Linked DNA regions of Homo sapiens: region 1 is linked to region 2. Evidence: fine-mapped expression QTL. A gene starts in region 2. The other region holds a variant in brackets. All regions are shown on one strand. Distances are from middle to middle. Region 1 has its middle 15 kb from the start of MIR6741. Region 2 holds the start of TMEM63A (transmembrane protein 63A).

Region 1 (5,365 bases), 25 kb before region 2:
GAGTTTTCCAGCTGGAGAAGTGTTAAAGGACCAGGGTGCTGAGGAGTGGCACCCTGGGTGATGGGCACTGCTTGTGCCCAGGTAGGGTGGCGGGAACCAGTGCCCAGTGTTGGTAAAGTCCTTCATATGATGGAGTGAAGAGTGAGTGTGTGCTGGGTGTGTGTGTGACTGGACAACAGGTGAGTCTGAACAATGAAGATGCTGGACTTGGCACAGTGGAAGGCAGCTGAGGCAGCAAGAGGTTAATTTGTTTTGTTTTGTTTTGTTTTGTTTTGTTTTGTTTTGTTTTGTTTGAGAAAGTCTTGCTCTGTTGCCCAGGCTGGAGTGTAGTGGTGTGATCTCAGCTCACTGCAACCTCTGCTTCCTGGGTTCAAGCGATTCTCCTGCCTCAGCCTCCTGAGTAGCTGGGACCACAGGTGTGTGCTACCACGCCTGGCTAATTTTTGTATTTTTAGTAGAAATGGGGTTTCACCATGTTAGCCAGGCTGGTCTCGAACTCCTGACCTCAGATGATCCGCCTGCCTCGGCTTCCCAAAGTGGTGGGATTACAGGCATAAGCCACCGTGCCCAGCCTAAGAGGTTTTTAAGTAGGGAGGGATCAGCCCTAATTTTTGCTTAAGAAAGAAAACTCCAGAAATGTTGGAAAACAGTGCCTTGAGTCTTGCAGCCATTTGGGTATAAAAGATGAGGGAAGCCAGTTGAAGAGGGTAATCCACAAGGCTTAAAGAGCCTTGGCTTCCCCCAGTGTATCCCCCTAATATCAATTGCTTGTTTAAAATTCAATTTGTTTAATGCACAGATAAGCTAAAACCTCCACCGTCTACAGGGTTCCTGTTGTTTGCTCAGTGCAGAGCACAATGGCTATTGTTTAGCAGGTATTTAATGAGGATTGTTGAGCCATGAGATGAGGGCAGGTGAGAGAGAAGCAGGTGTGGAAGCCAGGCCAAGGCTTCTGCTTGGTGACACCATTAACTGACCTGGAAAATCCTGGAAGGGGATAGGTTTGAGAGGAATAATAAAAATAAAAGCTGCGTTCATGGAGTGCCAGATACAGGTCAAAGCTGGAGCTGGACTTCCCCAACCTTCCCCAGTCCCCACAAACAACCCTATCCAGTGCGTGTTTCTATCTGACGCCCGTTTTCACAAATGAGAAAAATGAGGCTCATTGGGGTTGCCCAGGGCCGAGATGAGATGAGCAGCATGGCTGGAGCCTGCGCTGAACCCCATTGCCATCGGGAGTTCCTCTTTAAGGGGAGGTGGGCCCCCCATTTTCAGACCGTAGGGAAAGAGGCAGGGCCTCAGAAGAATCTGGAGGCACAGATGTGGGTTTGCAACCTGGCACTGTGACTGTGGACTTGGAGCTGAGTCCACATCAGTGTAGGCAGAGTGGCACATCACATTCCTGGGCTGCTACAGCAAAACTGTAATGACCAGGCCTGGGTCGCTTAAGCAACAGAAATGTGTTTGTCAACCTTGGCACGGTGGTGGCTCATGCCTATAATCCCAGCTACTCAGGAGGCTGAGGTAGGAGAATTGTTTGAGGCCAGGAGTTCTAGACAAGCCTGGGCAACATGGTGAGACCCCTGTCTCTACCAAAGAAAGCCAGGTATGGTGGCTTATGCCTGTAATCCCAGTGCTTTGGGAGGGAGGCCAAGGTGGGAGGATTGTTTGAGGACAGGAGTTTGAGACCAGCCAGGGCAATACAGCAAGACCCCATCTCTACAAAAAATAAAAGAAAAAGAAATTTATTTTCTCACAGTTCTGGAGGCTAGAAGTTCAAGACCAGGGACACCAGTCATACTGGATTAGAGTCCATCCTAGTGACCTCATCTAACTTAATTTTCTCTTTAAAGGCCCTATGTCCAAATAGACACATTCAGAGGTACTGAGGGTTAGAGTTTAAGCATATGAATTTTGGGGGTCCACAATTCAGCCCATGTCAAGCAGCCTGGAGATCATGAAGAGTCAAGGGATGAGGGAGAAGAAGGAGACAGAGGGCCTGGGGAAGCAGGGGGAGGATTTCAGCACAAGGGTGGAGTGGAGCCTCCAGCTGGCCTGGGTGAGAGGGGCAGGGTGAGGAGGGCCACGTTCCTGAACCCAGACCCCTGGATAGGAGGATGCTCAGGAGAAGAATGAGGCTGCATGGCAAATGCACCCGTCAGGCAGACCTACTTCAGACGAAGGTCAGTGTGGCTGTGGAGGCCCCGCTGGTCATCCCCAGCCAGGGCTGTGGTGTCTTCATCATGGAGAATACAGGCCGCTCCCCAGAGCTGTGGTGTGCAGGGCTCAGGCCGCACTGACCCCTTCCCTGCTGGGCTGAGCAGCTGGAAATCCAGGCTGCAGGGGAGCCATTTCCTCAGGGAGCCCTCCCACTCCTCACACAGAGTCTGCTTCAGGCCCAGGCCACACCTGGAACAAAGGCGGTCACGACCACCCCTGAACCCCTGGCCACAGGACCCAGAGCCCCAGTTCAACCCCCACTGTGAACCACTGTGAGCACTCCTCATCTTGCCCACCTCTGAAGGGGCCAGCTTTGTTCTTTTCCTTCTCCTTGCCGCCTGTCTGGAATCGGCCTGTGGCGGCTCCCATCTGGTGGCCAAAGGACCTTGGGCTGTAAGATAGGAAAAGGCTGAACTCTGTTGTTGGACACATTCTGGGGGCTTCCAGGTACCAAGCAGGAGGATCAAACCTTCCCAGGGACCAGCATCTTTCATTAACAAAATCCAAAACCATGTCACAGGACCCTCAGGAGCCTACTCCGTGGGCATGGGGCAGCCACAGAGCCAGCCTTGGCCTCGGTGCTGCCCTCAGTCAGCTCGTGGTCCGGGAAGGGATCATACACACTGCCACAGTCACAGCCTCACACTTACACATGGACACACCCACACATGCTCCCACACGCATGTGCACACACACACACGCACACACACACACCATAGGATGCTTCTGTTTTATTTGACACCAAACTAACACATCTTGGAAACTTCTTATGGAAACACCAACAGTAAACATGGAAAGTGGAAATAAAACACACACCCGAGATGATTCCTAATTAGCGGAAACAGCCCTAGTCTAGATCCAGAGACCCTGGAGGGACACGAACGTGGTGCAGGTCAAATTCCCCGTTGTCCAGCGAGGGTCATGGGCTGCCCAAGGCCACACAGCTCACTGCCCTGTGCCATGTCCAATCCCCTTGCAGCCTCCCTCAGCTCATGCTCAAGTCACACAGGCCTCCCCAGGCCTGCCCTGTCAATGCTGACCCACAAACAGGCTCACATAATGCTCCCTCCCAGGGGCACAGCAGCCTTGGCTTTGATCTGAGGTGGGGCTTTCCTGGCCTGAAAGTTGATGTGGCCAGCCTTCAACCTGTCCCCCATATCAC[C/T]GTCTGCTTTTGGAGACCCAGGGCAGGAAGCTGAAGCCTTATGTGGGAAAATGAGGGCTGGTCCCACGGCAGCCCTGGGGACCAGCTCTCTCCTTCGCTTTATGTATTATTTCATTTTTAATTACAGAACCAAGGTAGCAGAGCCTCTCAGGCTGAGCCAGAAAATAATCAGCTTTTTAATTTGATTTTTGTTCTCCCAAAGGAGAACAAGGGGCTCCAGGGGCACCATGAGGCCTGGACCTTGGAGATATGGTTAGATCCTCTAACCTATAGATGCTTGACTCCAGGCTGGCTCACCATCTACAGTGGGGTGACCTCCGCAGGCCCCAGTTTCTCTCTCTTTAAAATGAGCGGTTGGACCAAAGCTTCCTCTCAGGTCCCTTCCAGCACCAAGCCTCTCTGATCTCTGAGCAGTCCTCACCCCACATGCGTGGCTTTGCAAATTTTCCGACCTCTCTTCCATTTCTGAGCTTTCATCTTTTTCTGTAACGGCATAAAAATATCCTCCTTACCTCCCTGTCCCTGATTCTAGCGCCAGTCTGTGGCTGTCCAGGGGTGGGGTGGGGAGGGTCTCTTCCTGCCTCTCTCAGTTCTTTTCTGTCCCCTCTGGCTTTCCCCTTCTCTCCCCAAACCTCTAGCCACTAGTTATTTCCCAGAGTTTTTCCTCTGTGCTCCCCTCAGTATCATCTCTGCTCTTGTACCTCTGTAGCTGTGCCTGGCCATCTACTCTCCCTGCTCTCTTACCTCCTGCCAAAGACCCCACATCTGACCTTCTGCAGAGTCCTGGATGTGGCCCCTGGACTTCCCATCAGTTCTTCAGACTGTCCCTGTCCAATCTTCTTTCCACTCCCCACTCCCGCACCTGCCTGTCCTCCCTTCCCTGCCTCAATGAATGGTGCCCCCTCCACCCTGCCTGATCTATGCCATGGGTCCAGGCAAGTGCAAGGTCTGGCCCTGGGACCAGAAGGATGGGCCTTGACTCAGGGCGAGGAAGGACCCTCTTCCTAGCTTCCCCCAAATAGCTTGATCCACCTCCCTTCTCAGTTACACTGTGCAGCTTTCTTGCTCTGAAAGGTTGGAGACATTTACTGTTTTTGAAATTGTAGGATCTCTGTTCCTCAGACCCAAGGTGCAGAATGTCTTGGTTATGAGTCGGTGACAAAGCCCTGCCAAATCCAGGTCTCCAGACTCCACCCCAGGGGTCTCCCTGGTCTGACACTGCAAGCTGTGCTCCTCCCCAACCTCCCAACATCTGGACTCGCTGGGAGCTCCCTGGAGCTGGAAGCATGGGCTGGTTTCAGCAAGGACCTGCTGTCACTGGGCTGAGGAGGACAGGCCACTGGTGCTGCCCCCTCACAGGAAGGTCCATGAACAATGCACTAGGTGCCTTCCTGTCAGAAGATGCTCTGGGAATTCCTGGGTGGCCAGAGCCCTCCACCCTGGGTCTAGGGAAACCAACCCTTAAAAGCTAGCCAGGCGCGGTGGCTCACGCCTGTAATCCTAGCACTTTACAGGGCTGAGGCGGGTGGATCACTTGAGGCCAGGAGTTCAAGACCAGCTTGGCCAACATGGTGAAACCCCGTCTCTACTAAAAATACAAAAATTAGCTGGGCATGGTGGTGGGCGCTTGTAGTCCCAGGTACTCGGGAGGCTGAGGCAGGAGAATCCCTTGAACACAGGAGGCGGATGTTGCAGTGAGCCCAGATTGCACCACTGCACTCCAGCCTGGGCAACAGAGCAAGACTCCATCTCTAAATAAATGAATGAATAAATAAATAAATAAATAAATAATAGCTTATTTCCAGAGAAGGAGATGGAGTGGAGCCCACTTCTTATTAAGACACAGCCGGCAGATGCTGGTCAGCCCAAGAGGGGAGAACTAACTGGTGTTCTGTGTGGACTCTGAATCCTGTTCCTTGCCAGAGCTGAGCCTTGGATGGCACAGAAACTTCCCAGTCCACACCAAGGATTGCTGACTGAGAA
Region 2 (5,365 bases):
TGGGCTTTATTCCAATCCTACTTGCATCAAAATAAAATCTGTGATCAAAATTATCATCTATACTTAGAGAAGAAAATAAAGCTTCAGAGGATCTGGAATTTATAGCTGTAAGAGCTGTGCAGCTGGGCGCGGTGGCTCACGTCTATAATCCTGAGGATCACCTGAGGTTGGGAGTTTGAGACCAGCCTGACCAACATAGAGAAACCCCGTCTCTACTAAAAGTACAAAATTAGCCGGGTGTGGTGGCACATGCCTATAATCCCAGCTACTTGGGAGGCTGAGGCAGGAGAATCGCTTGAAGCCAGGAGGTGGAGGTTGCAGTGAGCTGAGATCACACCACTGTACTACAGCCTGGGCGACAGAGTGAGACTGTGTCTCAATAAGTAAATAATTAATTAAAAATTAAAAAATAAAATAGTGATTTTACAAGCACTTCACACAACTGACATAACAAAGGCTGTGGCTATCTCAACTCACATATCGATCCATCAAGGCCTTCTCTTGATTTTGAAATAACCTTAACCTACTCAAGAACAAATTTAGAAATCCTTTCTCTCTCTGAAATCTTTGTCAGTGGCTCCAGCATTCTAATTACCAAGACCGGAACCTTGCACTTGCCTGGACCCATGGCACAGACCAGACAGGTGGGGGCACCATTCATTGAGGAAGGAAGGAGGACAGGCAGGTGCGGGAGTGGGGAGTGGAAGAAAGATTGGACAGGGACAGTCTAAGGAGCCAACGGGGAGTCCAGGGGCCACACCCAGGACTCTGCAGACCGTCAGATGTGGAGGTAAGAGAGCAGGGAGGGGGGATGGCCAGGCGCAGCTATGGAGGGACAAGGGCAGAGATGATACTGGCGGGGGGCATAGAGGAAAAACCCTGGAAAATAACTAGTGGCTAGAGCTTTGGGGAGAGAAGGGGAAAGACAGATGGGACAGAAAAGAACTGAGAGAGGCAGGAAGAGACCCTCCCCACCCCACTCCTGGACAGCCACAGACTGGCGCTAGAATCAGGGACAGGGAGGTAAGGAGGAATTTTTTTTTTTTTTTTTTTTTTTTTGAGACAGAGTTTCGCTCTTGTTGCCCAGGCTGGAGTTCAATGGTGAAATCTCAGCTCACCGCAACCTCCGCCTCCCAGGTTCAAGCGATTCTCCTGCCTCAGACTCCCTAGTAGCTGGGATTACAGGCATGTGCCACCACACCCGGCTAATTTTGTATTTTTAGTAGAGACGGGGTTTCTCCATGCGGGTCAGGCTGGTCTCGAACTCCAGACCTAAGGTGATCCGCCCACCTCGGCCTCCCAAAGTGCTGGTATTACAGGCATGAGCCACCGCGCCCGGCCATAAGGAGGATATTTTTATGCCGTTACAGAAAAAGATGAAAGCTCAGAAATGGAAGGGAGGTCGGAGAACCTGCAAAGGCATGCATGTGGGGTGAGGACTGCTCAGAGCTCAGAGAGGGGTGCTGGAAGGGACCTGAGAGGAAGCTTTGGTCCAACCACTCATTTCACAGATAGGGAAACAGGGGCCTGCGGACGGGTTGGTTTGCTCCTTGATTCCCAGGGCGCGCGGTCCTCCCCGAACCCAGCCTCGCTTCCCGCGCAGCGCCCAGCAGTCCCTGGCGCGGCGGGCCGGCCCTGCCCTCGCGAGCTTGCGGTCCGGTTGTGGAGGCCACCGGCTCCCTGGAAACATTTGGCTCCCGGCCGGGAGGCATGCCGCGCTCTCGGACCTGGGCTGGAGTAGGTGCCCTTGGCGGCCCTGGCTCGAGCAGTAATGGACTAGCCCCAGGGGGCGTTGGAAATGCTGCGACCCGCCCCCACATTTTTGCCCGAACGGAGACCCTCCGGGCTTTCACGGTCCGGCCTTCTACAGCGGCGGGGGAGCCGTGGCCTCTTGCAGGGCGCTCCGCGCGGTTCCCGACTACCCGGAGCCGAGGTGCGGGCTGAATCCTGCTGAGCTCCCCATGCTACCACCCCCGCAACCCCACTCTCCCGGGGCGGGTCTAAGAGCTCTTCGGGGAAATTCAAAGCACTACAGGGACCAACGTTTGCAGATGCTCTCCCTGCGCCGCGACCACCCTGTGCTTGGCCCAGTTCTCCCGGAGGCGTCCAGAGACTGGGCTCGTGCCGGGGGACGGAAGAGGGTGCGCCCCGGCGGATCCCTTCTTGGAGCCTGGACGTGAGCTGGCCGGTCCGGGGCTTGCAGACCTCCGGGAGGAGCTGCGGGGCTGAGCGGCGACCAGGAGGCCAGGCCGGGGCAGAGGACCGCCGAGGGCCACCGCGGGAGGCGCAGTCAGCTGCGTACAGGCTTGCGCCGCCGCGGGCCAAGACTCCAAATTGGGAAAGGGGTGGCCGCAGCTCTGCGCATGTGCAGGAGGCGCCGGAGTTTCACTTTGTAACTTTTAAGTGGTCGGAACACGCCCCGCGCTGCTGGGTCCCGCCAGACACGCCGCCGCCGCAGGTACAGGGGACAGGGGGCGTGAGGAGGGGCAATGCACCCTCCGCCTTTCCCGGGACGTGCGCGCCAGGTGTCCGGTTCCGGAACGGCTCCCAGCCTACGCAGACCCCAGAGCCCCCGACCCCAAGCAGGGGGTGACGACGCGGGATTGGGTGGGAGGAGAGGGTCCGGGCAGCGCCTCCATTCCAGCCCTGCGCTCCTTGGGAATTCCTGGCGGCTTTTCAGGACTTTCCTCTCCGGCTTTTCGCTTTCAGGGCTGGTATCTCCTTCTTCCCCACCCCTCTCTTTGGGATTTGTCGGCGGAGTCCGACCTCCCACCTAACTAGGAGTGCAGCTATGGGCTCCTCGGACCCTATACGAGGCCGGGCTGGGAAAGGGCCAAGCGTCCGACTCTCCTGACGCCAGGAAGGCAGAGGCCACCCCTCGGGCTGTTCCTGGGTGACCACTTCCTGCAGCCTTGGCGGAGTCCTGAGGAGGGAGGCTGGGGACTCGGGGACTGGGGGGAAGGGCGGGGGCGGAAAGGGTGAGGCGAGCTCTGCTAAGAAACCAAATCCGCAAAGGTTCCAGCACCTGATAAGACTAGCTACCTGAGGCCCTGGAGGGGCCTTGGTCATTCAGCCCCAGGCAGGTGGTGTCCTCTTCAAGGGCAGGGGTGGACAGCGTGGCGGACCCACTGACCCTCCCTTGACACCTCTCAGGTCATCCTCAAGTCTGCTGTGCCTTCAAGGGGGATATGAACGGAAGCCGAGGCTCCTTTTCCCTTCACACGCCCCTCTCCTTTGTTTAGTGTGGGGGCAAAGGTCTCTCCTAGCTGTTCGTTGGGCTCTAACAGAGAAGACGTCAGGTGGGATCCTGCCCTTGTGTTTCCCATTAGCTGGAGGGGCGACTTAAAATAAAGGCAGACAGCTTCTAATTGCTTGCTAGGGCCGGGTCCTGGGCTAAGTGCTTTACAGGTGTTGTTTGGGATCTGTGCCTCCCAACAGCTCCGTGAGAGAAAGTCATCACTCGCATTTCCTGGCGAAGGAAGCCAAGGCACAGAGTGGTTAGGCTGCTTGTCTGAACTGCGTGGTGCTGAGACCCTAACTCCAGAGCCTGCTCACATAATCCCTGAGCCACACTGCCTCTGGTTTCAGCCAGGGGCTGTGTCATTTCCTTTGTGCTCCAGGGTAGGAGGTAAACAGTTGTCCAGGTTACTGGGTCCTGTTTGGTGTTGCCATAAGGAGAAGTTTGTACTTTACTTTGCAACCTTATTCTGCATCTGAAAGACCAGAGTTAGCTCCTGAGGCAGAAGGCCTGGAGCTGCTTGTAGTTTCGCTATTGTCATCACAGGATTGAAAGATTTGGTGATGATAAAATTACCCTGAATTTGTACGGGCCTTCTTGCAAGAACGAACAATATCCATATACTTCCTGCAACATTCTGCTGGTATTTCTAGAGCTTGTCAAGTTGACCACCAGGCCAGTCCTTGCTGCCAATGGAGACTGGCAGTGGATTAGCATAGGTAGTTTACTTTGGCAAATTTAGACCAGCTGTTGGATTTAGCCCTCTCCCACTGGCCACAATCAGACGCTTGCCTGCACATGGGTTGAACTTTGGGTTGGGAGCGTGAAGTCACCTGCTGCCCACTCTGGCTCTTGGGCCTCAGCAGTAATTCTTGGCTTTCCTACCCTCGGCATATTGAGTAGGAATAAGGGGATGAATGGAGAATTTCTGGAAGGCACAGGTAAGTGCTAGGCATTCACATACATCTAGGATGACTGAATATTGCCAGGGGTTCTCAGCCAGGCAGTGCCACTTCAACCACAGTGCCTAGCTGCTGGTTTGGCCTCCTCTATACAGCTGCCAGCTGGGTGCTCCCCTCCCCCTGCCTTCTCCTCAGCCTGGCAGCACTGTCCCATGGTGTCTGTGTTCCCAGCTGCCTGCTCAGAGCGTGCCTGTTTGTGAAAATGCAGAGGAGCTGTCCCATGGAGAGCCAGAGGGACGGAGCTGTTTCAGGGGGATCTGGACTTTATGTGTCTAATGGGCAGGGACAGGCTGGGACTGAGCTGAAAGGTCTGAGAGAGATTGTGGGTCCCCAGAGCTCTACCCTAACCTGGGTGCTCATCGGAGAGGGCAGACAGGACTGGCCACCTGACCTTACCTCCGTCTCAGGCTGATAGTATTTGCTAGCCACCTCCCTGAGTTCATATCAAACTTTGTCAAACCACCCTGGGAAGCCTATTTGGCAAGAGACAAGTAACTTAGAGGCATGACTGGGGCTGGAGGGAGGGGGAAGAGGAGCCGCAGGTGTTTCCCTCCGCAGAGGCCTCTCTCCTCTGCAGCACTGGCGAGGGTATGCCACTCCCAGCACCACCACAGCACCCTCCCCTTTCCAGGGACAATGCTCTCTCTGTGAGCATTTTATGGGGATGTTTTTTCTTTCCACTTCACATTTCAAGCCTTCCTTGTTCATGCTGCTGTGTTCCCTTTTCCTGATTCTAGCTCTTGGGGAACCCTGGGGAGCCTCCCCAGTAGCATTGGCCCTTGGGGCCCAGGTGAAGTCCTTTGCTTGGGGCCCTACCGTGAGCCCACAACCTCCAGGGTTTCTGTGGGAGAGGGCTGCTCCCCTAGACCCAGCAGGTCCCTGAGCCATTGGCAAAGAGGAGAGAGGCTGGGGCCACAGGTGGTGCTGGCCGAGGAAGGAGGAGTAGGGTCGCACAGAGGAGCACTGATGGATGGAGAACCAGTTCTGGGAGTTTGGGGAGAGATCAAGGCAGGAGGGAGCCCACTGGGCAGAACCTAAAGGTCCATATGGGCAGCATGCATACACAGGTGTGTGCTGGAGGGTTTCCATCCAGACCCCTACACTGGAAAAGGGTGGCTCCCATGTGATGCTTGGTGTCTGTGATCCTTCAGGAAAGTCTACAGTT

The links. PIP is the estimated chance that this variant, and not a neighbour inherited with it, causes the effect.
Region 1: its variant is fine-mapped to the expression of TMEM63A in whole blood (INTERVAL, PIP 0.95).

What each region holds. Positions count from the first base shown.
Region 1 is chr1:225,904,480-225,909,844 of GRCh38, reverse strand. No RefSeq gene overlaps it. Among named protein-coding and RNA genes, the nearest start is that of MIR6741, 15 kb to the left of the region's middle. RefSeq lists an enhancer at 2,636-3,409. The variant C/T (reference allele first, on the strand shown) is at 3,383.
Region 2 is chr1:225,879,397-225,884,761 of GRCh38, reverse strand. It overlaps TMEM63A (transmembrane protein 63A), which reads left to right and starts at 2,382. Exons shown (of 25, transcript NM_014698.3): 1 at 2,382-2,458; 2 at 5,352-5,365. RefSeq lists enhancers at 1,464-1,513, 1,574-1,623, 3,826-4,776 and silencers at 2,134-2,293, 2,854-2,973.